Homo sapiens: one gene and its partner. The protein of the gene in region 2 interacts with the protein of the main gene of each other region in a pairwise test. Each region holds a gene or a part of one and is shown on either strand. Other genes may lie near its edges.

What was found. Proteins that work in one complex are often made in the same cells at the same time.
Region 1: the proteins of LITAF (region 2) and DAPP1 interact in binary tests that used the Homo sapiens proteins (3 or more experiments, as listed by UniProt).

Annotation. Positions count from the first base shown.
Region 1 is NC_000004.12:99,861,180-99,868,826, reverse strand, and holds part of DAPP1 (dual adapter for phosphotyrosine and 3-phosphotyrosine and 3-phosphoinositide), read right to left. Parts: intron 7,250-7,647; coding exon 7,202-7,249; intron 5,818-7,201; coding exon 5,755-5,817; intron 5,058-5,754; coding exon 4,972-5,057; intron 3,102-4,971; exon of another isoform or gene 3,032-3,101; coding exon of another isoform or gene 2,991-3,031; intron 2,794-2,990; coding exon 2,706-2,793; intron 2,271-2,705; coding exon of another isoform or gene 2,253-2,270; exon of another isoform or gene 2,209-2,252; intron 711-2,208; coding exon 642-710; 3' UTR 1-641. UniProt on the Homo sapiens protein: May act as a B-cell-associated adapter that regulates B-cell antigen receptor (BCR)-signaling downstream of PI3K.
Region 2 is NC_000016.10:11,555,315-11,563,609, reverse strand, and holds part of LITAF (lipopolysaccharide-induced tumor necrosis factor-alpha factor), read left to right. Parts: intron 1-2,443; exon of another isoform or gene 2,444-2,464; intron 2,465-6,874; coding exon of another isoform or gene 6,875-6,879; coding exon 6,880-7,099; intron 7,100-8,295.

The sequences.
Region 1 (7,647 bases), on a different chromosome or scaffold from region 2:
CATCTAGCTCTCACAGTTTTGTCATTAGAAGCAAAGGACCTGCCAAATTTCTGAACCTTTTAAAAAGAGAAAATAAATGCCACAAGCATTTTCTATTTTAGTTTTGGAAATGTTCTTTTTTTTTTGTATAAAGGGGGAAAAATTAAAAAAAAAAACCTCTCCCCTGAAAATATTTGATGTTTTCTATCTGAATATAAATCCTGCAGAAGTCATCTAAGCCTCCAAGTATCTGTTTCCTTCTTGGTTAATAGCACAACCTGGATGTCAGACAGGCTGACCATGACTCACAGTGGGACTCTAGGCAACTAGTGTCAATAGGCTTGGGGACCACAATGAGTGAAAACAAAAACCCTTCCTCTTCCATTGTGTGTTCTAAGAGTGAGCAGACCTAAGAGTGGTGGTTTAAGCACTTTCTATCAGAATGGTGATTGCTTCAGTGTTCTCAAGGAGATGGCAACATCATGGAAGGGCAGCAACGTGAGTCAGCAACGTGGTATATGGGTCCCAATCAGCATCTGCTTCTGATTTGTTTTTGAAAGAAAATCCTTAGTCGGTTTTCATTTGAAGCCTGCTGCAGATCACAGCGTCAGGGAAACATTCCACCTTGCTCCTGGGCCAGAGCATTCCTTGGCAAGAAAGATCTATTTAAAGATGAACGACCGAGATCGGATCGTGCCTTCCCCTTGGTTGAGCTGTTTTCTTATTTGTGACTGTAATAAAGTACACACACGTGTATCCATTATTGAGTGATTGTAATGAACCCTGGCTTCTAACAAATATTAAATAAGACATGTTGATTAGTAAGGATGTCATACAACTCTAAGTTAATTATCATGTGCTCACCCCCAACTATAAGCTAATTATCATGTGTCCAGAAAAATTTTCTGTATTTTTTTTTAGGACACATATTGTAAAGTGATTGCTAAAACATGTACAAATTGGGAATTGGTCTAATACTTACAGTAATCTATAAAATGCAATACTATTCAATGAGTTAAAAGGAAGATATAGATCTAAAATTGATAATATGGAAAAATGTTCATAATATATTGCTAAGTGAAGTGAGCAAATATAGAACACTGGCAAGTGATTTGTTTTGTTTGGAGTTTGTATATTATCAATAAAGATGCTATGAACATTATTGTAACATTTTTTAGTGGATACATGCACTCATTTCTCTTAGATATACCTAAGCATGAAAATGCTGAATTATAGTGTAGGTATATGTATAGTTTTAAAAGAAACTGCCAAGCAATTTTTCAAAGTAGCCGTACACATTTTCATTCCCTCTAGCAATGTAGGAGAGTTCTAGTTCCTTCGCATTCATGCTAATACTTGATATTGACAGTCTTCATTGTATCCGTTCTGAAGGGTGTGTAGTGGTACATCATTGTGGTTTTTACTTCTAGCAAGTGATTAAATTTTGTTTTTAAATATTTATGTGTAAAGAGAGAAGTCTAAAAGTGTGTATACTTGATATATTTTTCTATAATTCTTGTATAATGATTTTGTGTTACTTTGATAATTAAAAATAGAAAGAATAAGAAATTAATCCATATCTGAGCAAAGGTTTCACAAGACAAATTATCCCTCACTGATACATTGGAAGAATTTAAAAATGAATGGTATACTTATTTGAATTTCAAACTGAAAACATAACTGAAAGCAAAAGTCTCAGTATCTAGAAAGGAATTTTCATATATATCAGACAATTTTGCAAAAAATAATTAAGAAAAATATTTTGTTTGAAATCATCTGGCCGGGCATGGTGCTTCACACCTGTCATCCCAGCACTTTGGGAGGCTGAGGCTGGTGGATCACTTGAGGTGAGAAGTTCGAGACCACCCTGGCCAAAATGGTGAAACCCCTTCTCTACTAAAAATACAAAAATTAACCAGGCGTGGTGGCAAGCTCCTATAATCCCAGCTATTCGGGAGGCTGAGACATGAAAGTCACTTGAACTCAAGAGGCAGAAGTTGCACTGAGCCAAGATCACACCACTGCACTCCAGCCTGGGCAACAGAACGAGACTCTGTCTCAAAAAAAAAAAAAAAAAAAAATAGAAAAAAAGAAATCATCAAAGTTTTTAAGATGGTATTTATAGGAAATTTTAGTCAGCTTTAAGGACAAGTTCTTGGCTAAGAACTCACTAACTTGCAAGCACATGAAAAACAAGTAGAAGATTGGTGAAGTTTTATAAGTACTCACTCAGTCTTCTCCTCGGGAGATATACAGAGAGCAGACAAAATAAATCAGCTTTTGTCCTTGACCTGCACAAAGTGATGCTTACATTGGAAACTAAGCTAAGTGCCTCTGGCAAACTTTCTTCTCTAACAATTTAAAAGGCTTTTCAACTAGAGAAGTATGTCAGCTTTCCTCTGTCAGACCTTCTGGTTCTAAATGTCCCCCTCCAGACAAAACTGAACTAACTGACACACCTTATAGGAAGTCTGATAGGTGGTTATTAGGCTAAGGCTCTATGTCTAAGACCCAAATATGGCTTAATTCTTTCTTTTTTACAATCCTGTCTCCATCTCTTCTCATGTCCCAGAAGAATTAACAGACTGTTCCGCAAGCCTGGAAGTAGACACCCAGACATCTCTTTGATTCTTGGGTCTAGTCTGACTCTTTTGATAGAAATATGTTTGAAATCATCAACATGTTATTTCTCAAGACTTGACATCTGAAGGCTTAAAAATTCTCACCAATTTCCAGCGTAATATCTTGATCCACTCATCAGCTTCTACTCCGGTCTTTGCACAGAGATAAAATGTCCTGAATGGAAATACCAAACTAATAGGACAAAAGAAAGAACATAAGATATTGCAGATCATTAGCTATATATATATATATATATATAATATATATAATATAATATATAATATAATATATTATATATATTATATATATATATATATATATATATTAGTTGAACACTAATTAGAGTATTGCAAGGGAAAAAAGAATTGATAAAGGATGCAGGTAAGTACCTTGAAGTGCTGGTATATATGCACCTACTCCTGCCAGCAAACTGCAGAAATGTTAAGGAAGTTGTAGATTCATATTATTATTCCAAGTCAGATGTATATACTCGAATAAGACTTTGAAGAAGAAAGAAACATGTTCAGGACACCCCTAGATCCTTTTGTGGTTCATGTCTTAGGTTAACTCTAACACTTATGTATTCATTCAGCTGATCTCTCAAAAACTTGTGCTATGATCCAAAGAATAGGCAAGACAGAGAAGTTTGCTAAAAAGAACTCATTTGTGTTAGCTTGCTTCAACGAGGATAACTCTGCCTTCTGTGGTTGTGGGCAATTTCAACTATTGGGACAATAAAAAGAGACAATAAAACTAAATTAGTTATTTCTCCCATCTCTGGCCAAGAGTCAGTCTCTGCTGCAGGGAATAAGAACTTTCCTACTGGCACAAAATACTTTTCCTAAATGTATAGTAATTTTTCATTTGACTGTGTCTGATTACCTAGTTAAAATTATGTAAGCAATAAGGTCAGCCCTAAATTACATACTGAACATACTTCCTTACTTACAGTTGAGATGCAAAAATACCAAAAATCTTTTTTCTTTTTGTGAAAAAGCCTTCAGAAGGGTTTCTATATCTTAAAGCCTAAGCAGTGTATTTTGTTGATACCAGCAATTAAAGTTGAATAGGTAAGAGGTAAGTCTCTGTGCATAGAAGCTAATACCTGGATGTGAGGTCTAGTGGAGAGTGAGTGGACAGTGGTGGGGAGGGAGTGATACAGTGCATATACTCGAAAACTGGTTTCTGTCATTGTCATTGTTTGGTACTCCCTATGGGAGACATTATTAACTGTCTATTAATACAGATAATTATCCCTTTCTTTTGCTAACAGAACCCCAAGCAATAAATCCTAATTTGTTTAAGCCAATTATGATCAGCTGCTGGGGATGGCCATGGCACCCGGTCTCATAGGGGAGTTTCTGGAGAAACATTGGTTTTCCTGATAAAAAGGGACAGACACGGGTAATATCATCCCTACATCTTTCTTTGTACTTTGTTGAAAATATGAGACCTACAGGTGTAGTAGACACTCAAATCCTGAAGTAGCCAGCATGAGAAAAGGCCAGGAGAACAGTAGAGACCCTGGACCTGACCTTGTCACCATAGCTGCTTGCCTCCTGATTTTTGGATATATGAGAAAAATAAAGCTCTGCTAGCTCACAGGGCATGTCTATGCAAATTTTAAAAAGACACCCATTCTCAGTTGATATTATAGAATTAACATTAATTTCTTCAGTTGTAATAATGATACTGTAGTCCTATATGTGATATTTTATTCTTAAGAGACACATACTAAAGTCTTTAGGAATAAAGTGCCATGATGTCTGCAACTTACTTTCAATTGGTTCAGGAAAAAAAAAAAGTGGATAGACTAGGATAAAGCAAATATGGTAAGATATATTAATAACTGCTATGGAGGGTATGTAAACGTATGTCTTTCAACTTGTGTATGCTTGAAAAACTTTAAAATAAAAGGTAGTGGGAAATAAGACATTCCTTTCTCAAGACTCTTCTCCCAGTTAGAACATTTTTATAACATACTGATTATGTTAGAACAAAATATTTTTGTGCCATTTGCCAGAAATTGTCATAACAATACAAATCACCTATCATTAGAGTCAACAAAGTTATAAATAAAATGAGGGAGAAAGCCTCAAAGAAATTAAATTGTCTAAGATGTGAATGGCATCCTCTATGTGAGTCATACTTCTCCAGTACGCAACATAAGCTGAGCTGACCTGCCTGTTTGTTTAAGCTACTTTAAATGAGGTGTTATGTCACACTCAGCTGAAAACACTCCTTACATGCAGGCATGCCCCTCATATCTGATCTTTGTAGACATTAAGATATACAGCTTTCTATTCCTTAGCCAAAATAAGTGTCTGGCAAGAAGACATTAAAAAACGTTTTCTTTATAAAACAACTTACCAAAAACAGTTTACCCTTTCTTGTGAATAATCGAATTGTACAGCTGAACATTCTGTTAGGTCTAGGATCCGAATTGGTTCTGGTGACTAAATAAAATAAAAAGCAACGTATGTCACCATTAAAAAAAAAAAAAAAAACAGACAAATCTGTCCCTCACTTATTCCCCTCACAAGTTTTCCACTATGTGCAATTGTCATATTTCCTTTCACTAACAGGACTGACAATAGAAAAGCCCTACCAAGGGAAGTCCTTGGTTTTGGAATGAGCCTTTCATAAAACTGGGCATTAAGTTACTACCTTTATCAACTTACTGATGAAGATGGATTTTAACACATGGAAGAGAGGTATATTTTTCTCTCATTTTTTAAAACTTCTACTTTCTTAGAAATGTTATATAAGAAAAGTGAGAAAAAATAATTTTAAATTGGCTTAATGAAATGGGCATGGGAAATGGAGAAACTGTATTTTTAATAAAGGGACAAATTGCTGCAAAGAGACAGTTAATAAATTGTGGCAAGAGAATAATTACATTGTCCTAAACAGAGGGAATTACGTGCCCTGGGGAACTATGGTTTAGCCAATCCAAGAAAGCAATTTCTGGGACATACATCTCATCTTTGCAAAATAACTCTGCTCATTTCAGGAATCAAGAATTCATATCTCCAATCATTTATTAGGTATTTCAGGTGGATATAAAAATAATTTCAGAGATTTTAAAGACCTAAGTTTCTTTCATCTAGAGAATTGATTTTTAAAGGAAAAATATATTATCATGTTTCTCACCATCTGGTCTTTGAAGTATTTCAGTTCATTCCTGTGCAGAGTAAACCATCTTGTTTTCCAGGTCTGAGAAAAACACACACACACACAAACACACAGACACACAAAGTTTTGAATACAGGAATGTAATATTTGAACCAGATGATTTACTTTCATTTTAAAAGTATCTAAAAAATTAAATACTATAACCCTGAAAAAATTCTTTTGTGTCATTTCTGAGAAAAAAGTTTCAAAATATCTATAAAAATTAAAATAATTTCATGCATTAAGCTCAAAAAATTCTTTTGTGTCATTTCTGAGAAAAAAGTTTCAAAATATCTATAAAAATTAATTTCATGCATTAAGCTCATAATGAAGGCAGATATATCATTAGTATATTTTTAAATACAAAAAGAATTAGTCTATCATAAATATTCAATGTGACTTATAACAAACCACTACAATTTCCATTTTATTAACTCTATAATAAAGATAAATATTGTTCTTTGAGTACCTAATATGGACGATATACTATCATTGGAGGCTTTATATATTATATCCAATCCTCACACAACAATGCCAGTATTATTATTCTTGTCTTACAAACAACAAAACTGAGGTTTAGGAACCCTGACTCACATGATATTCTAAACCTTGCCTAAGAACTCCAAGGTATCAGTGGTAAAAACCATCATTGCCCGCTGTTACCTTCTTATATACAAACAGCATCCTACTCTATCCTGGGTGTCAATGTGCCCAGTTAAAAGAAGTAACAGAGGATTTAAACATAAATATGCTATGAATATGAATACTCTCTGTCCTCAGGGAGCATTCGATCTAGAAGGGACACAAATAATGAAATTATTTAGGCTAATTCCAAGCATGTCAGTGTCTGTGAGAGGTTAAATACCGTGACTCTTAAAACGAGAAGGAGCAGACACATTCCATGAAGGTCTTCTTGGCACATTGAGATGAAACAAAGGAATTCTAAAGATACAGTCTCATAAATGGGGAACATTTGGATACTCTGAACTTGTAAGAGCTTAAATTGTGTTTTTCTTTGGATTTTATAACATAGTTTCAGTAGCATCAGTGATGTTTTTGGCCTATCCTTAAAGAAACATTTTATACAATTTTGACTTCTTCCTTGTTTTAGAAGAAGAACGAAAGATGTTCTAGAGTAAACTTGCTATCTTCATCCTCAATCATTCCATTATGAGGACTATGTTTTATTGACTTTTAACTGCAGGCTACACCTATGCAGGGCTTTGTCAAAGAACAGTCAAGTCATTTTCCAGAATTTTGACTAATGAGCCATAAAAATGAACTCTTGAGTCAGGTGAATATTACAAATGGGTTAAAATGAGCAGGCAATTATGCTTCCAAGAAAAACTATCAAGATGAGAATTGAGTCTACATGACGTGTTCTCTTTTTTCTGTGGCTGGCATGAGCAAAACCACACTTCCTTACCTTGACCAGGCCTCCCTGTTTGGTGAGGTAACCTTCTTTGGTGCCCAGCTGAAAAAGAAAAGCACTGAGTGAAGACCAGAACTGTCACAACAGGACGTTTGTCCTTCCTTTCATGTCCTATTTTTAAATGAAGAATGTTTGCTTTTGATCTTTAAATTACTGTCTATCATTTTTCACCTAGGCACTTGAAAAGCTTCCATGTGTTGTGAGAGATTGTTTTCAGACTGGATCTACTGGCATCATTCTGTAGCTCCTAACTCCAGTTAGCAATTTGCAAACAATAAACGACATCATTTCACTTATAAAAGTCTGTGTTTGTCAAGGTGTGTCATGTGAAATCCAGCTGTTTGGATTGTTACAGGGTTATTAGCACATAAACACGCACACATCTACTGTCAATACGTTTGGGAGACTGGATTAAGAAAACTAAAAGGATGTTTTTACTT
Region 2 (8,295 bases):
TTTTGCATGGCATCAAGTATGTGGCATAAAAGTGCACAGTAAACGCACTTTCATGTATTAGGGAGGCAGAAAGAGAGGTGATCCCTCCAGAGTTCAAATGTGTTGCTTCCACTGAGGGTGTATTTTCCTTTCATGATTTTTCTGGTTTTTAATAATTTCTGGCCAGGCGTGGTGACTCACGCCTGTAATCCCAGCACTCTGGGAGGCCAAGGCGGGCTGATCATCTGAGGTTGGGAGTTTGAGACCAGCCTGGCCAACATGGTGAAACCCTGTCTCTACTAAAAAATACAAAAATTAGCTGGGCGTGTTGGCAGGCACCTGTCATCCCAGCTACTCGGGAGGCTGAGGCACGAGAATTGCTTGAGCCTGGGAAGCGGAGGTTGCCATGAGCCAAGATCACGCCACTGCGTTCCAGTCTAGGCGACAGAGTGAGACTCTGACTCAAAAAAAAAAATTATTATTATTATAATTTTTTTGTGTAGAGATATGGTCTCACTCTGTCACCCAGGCTGGAGTGCAGTGGTGTGATCACAGCTCACTGTAACCTCAAGCTCCCAGGCTCGAGCAAATCCTCCGACCTCAGCTTCCTTAATAGCTGGGACTACAAGTTTGTGCAACCGTGTCTGGCTAATATATATTTTTTAATTAAAAAAAATTTTTAAAGATTGTCTTTATATATGATTTTGTGACTCTATTTTTTTTTCTTTTGTTTTGAGACAAGGTCTTGCTCTGTCACCCAGGCTGGAGAGCAGTGGCGTGATCCTAGCTTATTGCAGTCTCAAACTCTTGGGCTCAAGTGATCCTCCTACCTTAGCCTCCAGAGCAGCCAGGACCACAGGCATCTGCCATAACGCCCGGCTAATTTTTGTACCATTTGTAGAGACATGGTCTGAATTTGTTTCCCAGACTGGTCTCAAACTCTTGGGCTCAAGTGATCTGCCCACGTCGGCCTCCCAAAGTGCTGGGATTACAGACGTGATCCAACATGCCTGGGCAAGAATACCTTTCGTTGAGCAAATTGTTGAGAGGTAGAATGAGGAAAACTTTTGGCTAAAAGGGACCCCAAGATATCCCAAGTGGCATATTTATAGATGTGAAAGTGATTCCACAGCTGGGCATGTCAGATCAAAATTCTCCATGGATCAGGAATGCCTCCTTTTCCTTTTCTGTCACCACCGGTCACATTTGGCTACTTAATTTCTGGGCTCCAGTGCAGCATGGAAACGCGAGGCCCTTTGTTCAAAAAGTGTTCGAATTTCTTTTCTTCCTTCTTTTTTTTTTTTTTTTTTTTTTTTTGAGACGGAGTCTCGCTCAGTCACCCAGGCTGGAGTGCAGTGACACGATCTCGGCTCACTGCAGCCTCCATCTCCCAGGTTCACAGTGTGGAGAGGCAGGGCACGGTGGCTCATGCCTGTAATCCCAGCACTTTGAGAGGCTGAGGCAGGAGGATCACTTGAGCCCAGGAGTTTATGACCATCCTGGGCAGCTTAGCAAGACCCTGTCTCTAAGTAAAATTAAAAAGTTATAGCCAGGTATGGTGACACACACCTGTAGTCCCACCTACTCCAGAGGCTGAGACAGGAGGATTGTTTGAGTCTACGAGTTTCAGGCTGTGGCGAGCTATGATCATGCCACTGTACTCCAGCCTGGGCAATAGAGTGAGACCCTGTTTCTCTCTTTCTTTCTCCCTTTCCCTCTTTTTTAAAAAAAAGACATTGTGGAGAGTGTGTGTGTGAGTTTAGGGTGAGGGGGACTAATTGCTGTTCTAAGAGTTTCGTAGTTGGGGGGGTGATAAGGAGGGGATGGGGGGTGATGAGGAGAGGGATGGTTGGTGGGTGGGCCTCTTATCCCAGGAGATAAGCCAAATTGAAATGAAGGCGCAAAACAAGGGAAACAAAATGGGACTAACCGTGGTGGCATTTCCTGGCCTTGGGGCCTGAGGGAGGGAAGACTGTGGAATTTATTTAGAAAACTTCCAAACCAGCGGTTATGAGTCTTTTTTACTATTCTGGCCTGTTGCTCTTGTTCTTTTCAGAATTATAAATGTGTTTGTGTGGCTGTTTGATCTCAAAGCAATGCTCAGAAGATGCAGTGTCTCGAAATCCCAGAAGATAAGATGTTACCACATGAAAGATGGTCTCAATAAAGGGGGAGAGGCGGTGGCCGAGGCCTTAATTTCCAAAACGAGAAACTGGGGCCCACCCATCTTTTAAAGGTCGTCAAAAGAAAGCTCCCATCCTCCCATCCCCCACACCTGTGTGTTGACTCTGTAAAGATGCAGTTTCCTCACTTTGGGAGGAGAGGCCGTGGTTTTTGCAGGAATTGCGCCGCTGCCGAATTCAGCCATTGCCTCTTGGAGGTTTAGGATGCCCCAGGCCTTGTTTTCCCTCAAAGCATTCCATTGGCAATCACGACCAACCATGCTCCTTGAGGATTTCTGTACACACTGGCTTTTCCTGGTCTTGTAAGTTTTTATACGAGTCAGTTTTCACCATAAATCATGGAGGTGGGTCTGGGGCTGTGACGGCGAGTCCTCGACGTTCAACCCGGATGTAGGTCACTCCAGACCCCCAGGGTGCCCTGTCGTTCCCTTTGCTGGAAGTTTCAACAAAGCCAGAAGCAGATGTCAGGGGTTCCCGGGGTCATCTGGGAGGGATGTCCGCTGAGTTTAGGGGCAAGCTGGGACTGCTGCATTTCTGTTCCTGTACGTCAGAGGAAACTAGCAACACGCCTCAAACCACTTTACACCATGTCTCAGTGTTAAACCAGAGCCTGTTTTCACAAACACCTCCTGCGATCTCATTACAGCCCCACCCTGCCCTCCTGCTTCTGTGGCCTTCTCTACTTTGCTTCTTGCTCCTCTTAAAGACCTTCTGTCTCATCTGTCTTTTCTGGGGTTGGGCCTTTCCCCTTCTCTATAACCTTCTGTGACTCCCACGGCTCACAGCTTTGCTGTATATTAGGAGCAGAAAGCAAGCTTCATTACATCATTTAAAATTTTTTAGTAGCTACATTTTTTTTTTTTTTGAGATGGAATCTCGCTCTGTGGCCCAGGCTGGAGTGCAGTGGTGTGATCTCAGCTCGCTGCAACCTCTGCCTCCCAGGTTAAGTGCTGGGATTACAGGCGCACGCCACCAGACCTGGCTAATTTCTGTATTTTTAGTAGAGATGGGGTTTCACCATGTTGGCCAGGCTGGTCTCGAACTCCTTACCTCAAATGATCCACCCATCTCAGCCTCCCAAAGTGCTGGGATTACAGGCATGAGCCACCGTGCCTGGCCGCCACATTTAATGTATTTATTTATTGATTTTTGAGACAGAGTCTCACTCTGTTGCCCAGGCTAGAGTGCAATGGCGCAATCTCAGCTCCCTGCAACCTCCACCTCCCGTGTTCAAGTGATTATCCTGCCTCAGCCTCCTGAGTAGCTGGGATTACAGGCGCCCAATATCACACCTGGCTAATTTTTGTATTTTTAGTAGAGACGGGGTTTCACCATGTTGGCCAGGCTGGTCTCAAACTCCTGACCTCAGGCGATCCGTCTGCCTTGGCCTCCCAAAGTACTGGGATTATAGTCGTGAGCCACTGTGTCTGGCCTCTTTTTTATTTATTTTGTTTTTATTTATTTATTTTTGAGACAGTCTCGCCCAGGCTGGAGTGCAGTGGCGCAGTCACGGCTCACTTGAACTCCTGGGTTTAAGTGATTCTCCCACCTCAGCCTCCCAAGTAGCTGGGACCACAGGGGTGCACCACCATGTCTGGCTAATTTTTAATTTTTTTGTAGAGACAGTGTCTCCCTATGTTGCTCAGGCTGATCTAGAATGCCTGGGCTCAAGCCATCCTCCTGCCTCAGCCTCCCAAAGTGCTGGGATGACAGGTGTAAGCCACCATGCCCGGCCTAGTAGCCACATTTTGAAAGGTACAAAGAAACAGGTGAAATTAACAATACATTTTACTTAACTTCATATATCTAAGCTGTGGTCATTTTAATATATCAATATAAGAAATTATTAATGAGATATTTTACATTCATTTTTTCCTACTAAGTTTTGAAACCCAGGGTGTATTTTTACATTGACATTCTATCCCAAATTGAATGCTAAATTTTTATCAAAAAACATTTTGATCTATATTCAGTGTTCATCAAATTTACCATTGAAAAAATGATTCATATATTCAAGTTGTCCCAGACTTACATAAAAGCTTCCCAATAATTGAATTGTTAGTTTTCACATTTAAATTGCTTAAACTTAAATACAAGTAAAAATTCATTGGCAAGTAAAAAGATGAAAAAGAAGCTAAAACAAAAAAAATTCAGTTCTTCACTCACACTAGCTCATTTCTTTTTTTCTTTTAGACATAGAGTGTCGCTCTGTCACCCAGGCTAGAGTGCAGTGGCATGATCATGGCTCACTGTAGCCTCCACCTGCTAGGCTCAAGTGATCCTCCTACCTCAGCCTCCTGGGTAGCTGGGACCAGAAGTGTGCAACACCATGCCTGGCTAATTTTTTTAATTTTTAAAATTTTGTAGAGAGAGGGTATCACTATGTTGTCTAGGCTGGTCTTGAACTCCTGGGCTCAAGTAATCCCACTGCCTCGACCTCCCAAAGTGCTGGGATTGCAGTCATGAGCCCCCGTGCCCGGCCACAAGCCACATTTTAGACGCCCAATAACCTTACGTGACTGGTGGCTGCTATATTGGGCAGCAGATACAGAGCATTTCCATCCTCACAGAAGATTCTGTTGGACAGCACTCTGATAGAAAGAAGTCTTGAACACGTGTTCTCCAAGGGACTTTCAAAGTTTTCTAGAATGCAGCCCCAACCTATCTTTACTTACTGACTTTCTTTTTATCACGTTCACTCCCCCGCCTCTATTCCACTTTGTTTCGTTTGTTTGTTTTTGAGACAGAGTCTCGCTCTGTTTCCCAGGCTGGAGTGCAGTGGAGTGATCATGGCTCACTGCAGCCTCAACCTCCTAGGATTAAGCAATCCTCCTGCCTCAGCCTCCTAAGTAGCTGGGATTACAGGTGTGTGCCACTACACCTGGCTACTTTTTTTATTCGTTGTAGAGACAGGGTCTCACTATGTTGCCCAGGCTGGTGGTGAATTCCTGGGCTCAAGTGATCCTCCTGCCTCAACCTCCCAAAGTACTGGGATTACAGGCATGAGCCACTGCACCCAGCCCTTTTGTTTTGTTTTGTTTTAGAGATGGGGGTCTCACCATGTTGCCCAGGTTAGTCTTGAGATCCTGGGCTCAGGCTATCCTGCCACCTCGGCTCCACAGAGTGCTGGGATTACAGGTGAGCCACCGCACCTGGTCTCTGTTTCCACTTTGAGGTGAATACCCTTTCTTCGGTTCCTCCAGAGAAGTCTCCTCTTTGGGGCTTGGTTTAGAGGCAGGGCTTCTGAGAAGGACTCTACCCTTCTCCCTGCAGTGGGATTAATTGCTGCCTTGGCTTCCCACGAGTTCTAGAAAATGAGGCAGACAGTGTCGGGAGAGGGGAGTGGTGGTTGTGGCTCGCTGCCCCGGAGCCTCATTTCCCATTTCTCCCGAGACAGGTTTGAATGGCTCTTCTAAGGCAGCCTGAACCCTGCCCAGTTAGAAAAACAGCCACACAAAGAACAGCACTGTGTCTGCTTCCAGCTGCCCCATGGCTGCTGGATCATGGAACATCAGACAGGAGCACACTCTGGGTGCAGGGTGTAATTCTAGGCGAGCAGCAGCTCTGCCAGGGCTGGAGGGAAATCCTTTCTTTGCCCTCACAAAAGAAAATGTGTGCCTGGCTGCTCTGGTGCTCATTTTTCAAAATGAGAACTGGAGTCTATGTGTATTTCCTTCTTAAAAAGCTATAACACAGAGGCTGGGCGCGGTGGCTCATGCCTTTAATCCCAGCACATTGGGAAGCCAAGGCGGGAGGTTCACTTGCCCCCAGGAGTACAAGACCAGCCTAGATAGCAAAGTGAGACCCCCATCTCTACAAAAAATGAAAACATTAGCCGGGCGGGGGGGCACATGCCTGTAGTCCCAGCTACCTGGGAGGCTGAGGCAGGAAGATCACCTGAGCCTGGGTGGTGGAGGCTGCAGTGAGCTGAGATCACACCACTGCACTGTAGCCTGGGTGACAGATCTTGTCTCAAAAAAATAAAACAAAACAAAAAACAAAACTATAACACACATACAAAAAAGTATATACATTTTAATTGTACAACTGAGATTTTTACAGACTGAACATACCTCTGTAACCAGCCCCCAGGTGAAGAAAGAGAACAGGACCCGCCCCCCGCAAAGGCCCCCTCATACCCCTTTCCAGATTCTTCTTCCTCTTCCAAGAGTAACCGCTCCATGGATTCATTTTGCCTATTTCTGACCTTTATTTAAATAGCATCATACAGTGTGCATTTTGTGGCATCTGGCCCCTTTGCTATTTGTGATAATTTGTGGTTGGTTTTTGAATGCCTTTATCTTTTCCGTTACCTGAAACAGTTAGTGAAAACCACAGTGGTTTAAAAACCAAAAAAACCACAAAAAAACAAACAAAAAAAAACAACGAAGAAGAAACACCAGATATGGAAGGTACGTAGGTCATTGTCTGGTAATGGTTTAAGATGTGAAGAAGAAATGACCCTTATTTGGTTGATGTTTCCACTTTGGATTTTCCAGGTTTTGGTGATTTTGGGTAGTAATTATTTACTTTTTGATTAATTCTGGGGTCTTGAAGGGACATTAACCCTCTTCCTAGCTTTTGGACAAAGCTGGATGGAAGTCATTTTCTCAGAATTTCTGTTTGCCAGAAAGAAAATTGAAGACTTAGGTGAAAAAGAGAGGGAGAGATCAACTGAATTTCTTATCTGGTATGTTCTGTTTCTGTTTTAGGTAAAATGTCGGTTCCAGGACCTTACCAGGCGGCCACTGGGCCTTCCTCAGCACCATCCGCACCTCCATCCTATGAAGAGACAGTGGCTGTTAACAGTTATTACCCCACACCTCCAGCTCCCATGCCTGGGCCAACTACGGGGCTTGTGACGGGGCCTGATGGGAAGGGCATGAATCCTCCTTCGTATTATACCCAGCCAGCGCCCATCCCCAATAACAATCCAAGTACGTGTGGCCTCCCAGGCCCCCCTTACCATTCCTTGGCCCTCCACCCTGGGAATCAGGAGAGTGACCGAAGTGACTCTGCCAAAGAGTCTAAGTGAAGTGCCAGTACGTTCCAGTTTTACCCCCTTACCTTGAAATTCCACACGCAGTCTTTTAGATTCCATGTTGGTGAGGCTCACAGCTTTTCCGTAATAAAGTATGGTTTAGGATCTTTCCCATGGTCATCATATACGAATCTTTTGGCACATCTCTTGGAGGCACAACCAACTTTCTTCTGAGAATGGGAGTTTGTGTCTTAAGGGCCCGCACACTTCCTCCTGAGGTCTGATGCAGAACTTCTGCCCTGAGGCCAGGGCCGAGGTAGGAATAGGGAGGAGAAGAAACCGTCCTGAGCAATGTGTGATTGTGTTTTCATACCAGCTCACCCTCAATGCAAGTTGCTCTTCTGCTTTTGAGCAACTAGATGGTCCCTGTCCTTTGGTGCTTCCTTCCGCCCAAGGGTGCCCTGGTATGTCACTGCTTTAGTATCACAGGTAGTTCTGAAAGAAATCTTTAGCTCAGAGAGGGGGCCCGTGAATCAGACTGCCTGGGTTCACATAACCTCCTTGTGCCTCAGCTTCCCCATTTGTAAAATAGGTTTCATCAAGTACCTATTTATAAATATCAGTGAGTTGTTAACATGAGAGGAAGTTGTGTGTGCCAAATACAGAGTACTCGTTTGATAAAAGTGAACTCTTATTGTTGTGTTCAAGTTATTTTGAGCTGGAAGAGGATGAGATAATGACTTTAGATTCTTAGACCATCCTGTGATCAATAAATAGTTTCTTTTTCTTTTTCTTTTTTTTTTTTTTTGAGACAGGGTCTCACCATGTTGCCCAGGTTGGAGTGCAGTGGTGCAGTCATGGCTCGCTATAGCCTGGACCTCCTGGGCTCAAGTGATCCTCCCACTTCAGTCTCTGGAATAGCTGAGACTACAGGCATACAGCACCACACCTGGCTAATTTTTAAATTTTTGTGTAAATCGGGTCTCACTGTTTTTCCAGGCTGATCTTTAACTCCTGAGCTCAAACGATCTTCCCACCTCCCTTGGCCTCCCAAAGTGTTAGAATTATCAGCATGAGTCACAGAGCCTGGTCCAAATAACTTATTCTTGAACCCCAAAAACACTTAATAAAATGTATGAACAGGGTGTGGTG